Regions from separate parts of the Homo sapiens genome. Here region 2 is linked to region 1. A link means that fine-mapping ties the variant in region 1 to the expression of a gene that starts in the linked region. Tissue or cell type: whole blood. Region 1 holds a variant in brackets; the other region holds the start of a gene. All regions are shown on one strand. Distances are between the middles of the regions.

Region 1 (2,765 bases):
GAAACCTGGTTTCATGTGGTTGGGTCAATCCCCCCAGTGCTTCTGAGGTTGATGAGTTAAACGATGCAAAGGCCATGGTTGGGAGATCTCCTCTTGGGATACGACTTTGGTGAATTTACCTGGGTCTGGTCCTCATTCCTGCAAATCTAGAACCCGACCACCATCCAGACAAGAAGAGAGACTGAGACCCTACAATAACTCAAGTGATTTATTTTGGGGACACTCCTTTCCAGGAAGCTGAATGCTTGTGACCCTCATCTGTTTTTCTGATTTCAGCTGCCTGGGAGGTTGCCTGAGCAGGCAGGAGGCAGCTCATGGGCATGGACTTGAACTGATGCCTCGAATGGCCTGCCTGGCCTTTGTCTTTCTTTATGTTCCATTACCAAATATTCTGCTCCTGGAATCACAGCCTTTGTTTTTATTTATTTATTTATTTATTTATTTATTTATTATTTTAAATGTTTTATAGAGATGGGGGGTCTTGCCAGTACAGGCTGGTCTCAAATTCCTGGGCTCAAGCAAACATCCTGCCTCAGCCTCCCAAAATGCTGGGATTACACAACAATGCCCTAAAATAAGACTTTCAGGTGAAGCTTATGCATGTCTTTCCTGCTTGGTGAGTAGGGTATGATTAGAGTTGGATTTTTCCATCCCATATTCACTCTACAGAATCAATTTAGTGTTCTGCTTATCTATGGGACATTGATGTCATGTGATGGGTGATGTCATGTGATGGGTGATGTCATGTGATGGGTGATGTCATGTGATGTGTGATGTCATGTGATGGGTGATGTCATGTGATGCATGATGTCATGTGATGGGTGATGTCATGTGATGGGTGATGCCATGTGATGGGTTATGTCATGTGATGGGTGATGCCATGTGACAGGTGGTCATGTGACAAGGTGATCCTGTGATGAGTGGTCATGTGATGGGTGATGTCATGTGATGGGTGATGGGATGGGCGATGTCATGTGATGGGTGATCATGTGACAGGTGATGTCATGTGATGGGTGGTCATGTGATGGGTGATATGTAATGGGTGATGTCATGTGGGGGTGGTCATGTGATAGGTGATGTCATGTGATCGACGATCATGTGATGGGTGATGTCATGTGATGGGTGATGTCATGTGATGGGTGATCATGTGACAAGTGATCATGTGATGGGTGATGTCATATCATGGGTGATGTCATGTGACAGGTGATCATGTGACAGGTGATCATGTGATGGGTGATGTCATGTGATGGGTGATGCCATGTGACA[T/G]GTGGTCATGTGACAGGTGATGTCATGTGATGGGTGATCATGTGATGAGTGATGTCATGTGATGGGTGATGTCATGTGATAGGTGATCATGTGATGAGTGATGTCATGTGACAGGGATGTCATGTGATGGGTGATCATGTGATGGGTGCTGTCATGTAATGGGTGGTCATGTGATGGGTGATGTCATGTGATGGGTGATGTGATGGGCAATCATGTGATGGGTGATGTGATGGTGATCATGTGACAGGTGATGTCATGTGATGGGTGGTCATGTGATGGGTGATATCATGTAATGGGTGATGTCATGCGGGGGTGGTCATGTGATAGGTGATGTCATGTGATGGGTGATCATGTGATGGGTGATGTCACGTGATGGGTGATATCACATGATGGGCGACATCACGTGATGGGCGATCATATGATGGGTGATGTCATGTGATGGGCAATATCACGTGATGGGCGACATCACGTGATGGGCAATCATGTGATGGGTGATGTCACATCATGGGTGATCATGTGATGGGTGATTGATGTCATATGATTCCAGGGGGAGCACCTGTTCACCAAGCAGGGGAGAGGCTGTGAGTTCTCTGCCACGCTGGTAACACAATCTCTACTGGGGCTTCCTAGTGCTGACTGCTGCAGGTGGCTCATCATAGCACACCAAGGGCCACCACAGGGACACATTACCAAAGGAAACCCCAGAAGACACAAAACATCCCCTTCTTCCTCCATAAACTTGGGAGCCAGATGTTGGGTGACATCGTTCACCATCTCTGGCTGCTCTGGCCTTGCTGGAACCCCCTGTTTTCTCTTTCTCCTCTTGCATCATGATAAATGGCCGATCATTAATGGATGAAAAGTGGTGTCTCTGACACAAAGGCTCAACGAGGCGTCTCTGTCAAAGGGTCACACTAGATTCTATATCCACACACAGGAGACCTCTGGACTGGGGACCCTGAGCAGTGCCTTGGAGAATTCTGCAGCTTCCTGCTCTCAGGCCTGTGGCCCCATCTCTCCTTGATTGATGCCCCCAAGGATGCCCTGAGGTTAGAACACTCCCTCCGTGGGTGTGTTCTTGAGGCCACCCAAAGTGGGGAGCTGTGTCTGAGACTCCACTTACGGCCAGAATACTCAAAGGCGTTATCTCCCAGGTAAAATGGTGGACCAGAAACTACCTGCTTGTGAGTAAGTAAGGAAGGAGAGCCAAGGTAAAGCCATTAGCATTTGCAGACCAGTTGTTCCCTGACAAACATAGATTTAGAACAGAAATTGGCAGCTAAATAAAGTTTAGTACTTGTATTACTCAGGGTTCTCTAGAGGGACAGAACTAATAGGAGATATATATATATATATGAAGGGGAGTTTATTAGGAAAATGAACTCACACAATCACAAGGTAAAGTCCCACAATAGGCTGTTTGCAAGCTGAGGAGCCAGGAAGCCAGTCCAAGTACCAAAACCTCAAAGGTACGGAAGCTGACAGAGCAACCTTCAGTC
Region 2 (2,765 bases), 32 kb after region 1:
GCCAAAATCCTGTCTCCTTACCAGAGGGGCCTGGTCAGGGGTGCCGCAGTGTCAGCCCCTCATGGACCCTGGGCGTGTGGAGAAGGCAATGGCAGGCAGGCAGCCTTTGTCCACCCAGGAACAGGGACTGAGGGTGGGAGGCTCCCTCTGTGCAGAGGTGGGAAGGGCATGGGAAGTTTCCATGGAGACTGGAAAGGCAAGGCTAGGGAAACACTGGGTGTGTGCGGGCCTGTGTGTGCATGTGAGTGTGACTCTGTGTGTGTGACTGTGTGAGTGTGACTGTCTGTGTGAGTGTGACTGTGTGTGACTGTGTGTGCATGTGTGACTGTGTGTGCATGTGAGTGTGACTGTGTGTGCATGTGTGACTGTGTGCATGTGTGTGTGAGACTGTGTGAGTGTGACTGTGTGTGCATGTGTGTGAGACTGTGTGAGTGTGACCGTGTGTGCGTGTGAGTGTGACTGTGTGTGTGATCGTCCCAGATAAAATTTGTGATTGGATAACTTTGGCAATGACAGTCACAGCATCACCTCCCACCAGGGCTTCCTGTCTCGGGCACAGAGGAATAGGCCTCCCCCGTGCTGTGCCCTGCCGCCTGCTGTCCCCTGGTGAGGCAGCTGCTGACCGCTCCTGGGTGCTCCTTTGCCCTCCTCCCCTCTCCCTGCCCCACTCCCCTCTATGACCGCTACTCCAGCGCCTGCACCCCTCCCTGCCCTCTCCCACTCAGGACAGAGCTCCCCAAGTCCAGGGTCGGCCCACTCACCTGGGACAAGCAGGAGGAGCAGAGCTGAAGACCGCCACGAGGCCCAGGCCCTGGCAGTCATTCCTGTAACACGAATGTCACCTGCCACTGTGCAAGACCCCAGGAGGGGACAAAATGTAATCTCCTCCCAGCAGATCTGAGCTTCGCTTCTGCTTTTCTTCTGCTCTCTGCTTCCTTGTCCAGCCCTGTCTCAGGTCTGAGGCTGGAGAGGGTCAGGGTACAGGAAGCTCAGGGAGAGAGCCGCCTGGGCTGAGGCCGGTGCTGACAGCTCTGGGATGGTGCTAGTGGCTCCTCTCAACCCTGACGTCTGGCAAAGTCCAGGGTCCCTTGGGTGGCGATGCAGCCACTTCCCCACAGCCCACAGCTTCTGGCTTCAGTGTGTTACTCACACTGCAGAAGGCAGAGCCAAGCTGGGCCATTTCCTACCACATGGGCTGCTCCACCCTCTGTGACATGTCACTTCCTGGTCAGGATGGACAATCTTGTGGTTGGAGGCTAAATCTGCCACCTTCTTTAGCCTTGGAGGTGACCAGAGAGAGGTTGTGTCCCTTAATCTTCAGCTAGGTCCCCGCAGAGACCTCTGCCCCTAAGACCCCCAGCTCTTCTTCTGGCCTCAGAAGTTAGCGCTATGAACCCAGACACCATCTGCATGTCCCTTTTTGGTGCTGAGTCCCCAACCAGGTTAAAATCCCACAGGCTTGGGGAGTTTTCCTCTTGTGCCCCTGCCCCCAGACCTACACACACAGCGGCATCACCCACCCGAGACCCTCCTTTTCCATCTTGTCTTCTTGCCAAAATCCATGCCCCAGTGGGAATCAGGGCAGAGAACTGAGAATAGAGAGAGAGTTCAGACATGTGAAGATGCTGAAGTGGGACTTTGTGGAGGATGTGAGGCTGCGACTGAGCCAGCACACACCCCAGGGCACACGGAGGGGTGTTTGGTGACTGAGAGGACAGTTTGTCATGAGCAGCGGCTGCTGGTGTCTATCCTGGGTCCACTGTGATGGCCAGGGGCCTCCGCAGGGAGCAGACATGGCAGACAGGCCTTCCCAGGAGGCGGGAACCCAGGTCTATCCACACTCGGCATGGCTGGTTCTCCTGACGTGATGGGCTCAGGGTGTCTTTACCCTGGAAAGGGCAAGGAGGCTAGTCAGACACAGGATTTACCTCCTGTCTGTCCTGGAGGGCATCACCCCTTCTCCACCTTCTCATGCCTTAAGCATATTCCTTGACTCTCCCAACCCTCCTACAGATTTCTGTTCCTTTCTTCCTATCAGAGTCAATAGCACCAGTATGTGCACACAGCCATGAGGTTGAGTGGAGAGTGATGGGAGTCTGGGCAAACCTGGCACCATGAAGGGGTCTCTGCACCCTCGACCTGCCCTGTCCTCCCTCCATTTACACTCTCAGGGACACAGCATGCACTGGGGTCATTGGTGTTGATGCCCCCAGACTCACATCATGGGACTATCTCTAGCCCAGTGCAATCCCAGGGCCTCCAATTAGCCCAGTGCTCAGGTCTGGCCTGGGCCTGGCTTTGAAGTATCCCGGCTCTTTCATGGGCTGACCTGGTCTCCCCTTCTGCTCATACCCACCCCTTTCATTCTCCACAGAATCAGCAATGTGATCCCTGACACACACACATGGCCCTGGGGAGGCGCTGCTGAACTCCCAATGGCTCCTGCTGTCACAGGATGGCACCCACCTGACCTGGCCTCTGCACACAGGTCCTGGCAGGCCCCAGCACCTGGTAGGTGTCTCCAGCCTCCTGGATCCAGGTTCACACTGGTGCTGCCACCCTCCCCACTCGGGCCTTTGTCCAGACCCTCAACCTCCCACTCCTCTGCCTGGCTCCAGCCGACAGGGTTGCCTGCGTGTTCCTTGACCTTCCCGGGTTATGGTGGCTCGCTTTTTAGGGGTCCTCATGACCCATTTCACACTTCCCTCTCGTCTTCCTCAGTCTTTCTGTTGGCGAGTCAATGTCTGCTCCCATCTAGGGTGGCC

What was found. PIP is the estimated chance that this variant, and not a neighbour inherited with it, causes the effect.
Region 2: CD300C starts here. The variant in region 1 is fine-mapped to the expression of CD300C in whole blood (TOPMed, PIP above 0.99). The same link has a PIP of 0.9 or more in monocytes.

What each region holds. Positions count from the first base shown.
Region 1 is chr17:74,513,267-74,516,031 of GRCh38, forward strand. No RefSeq gene overlaps it. Among named protein-coding and RNA genes, the nearest start is that of CD300LB, 17 kb to the right of the region's middle. The variant T/G (reference allele first, on the strand shown) is at 1,267.
Region 2 is chr17:74,544,961-74,547,725 of GRCh38, forward strand. CD300C (CD300c molecule) reads right to left here and starts at 1,155. Exons shown (of 4, transcript NM_006678.5): 1 at 762-1,155. The coding sequence starts at 822.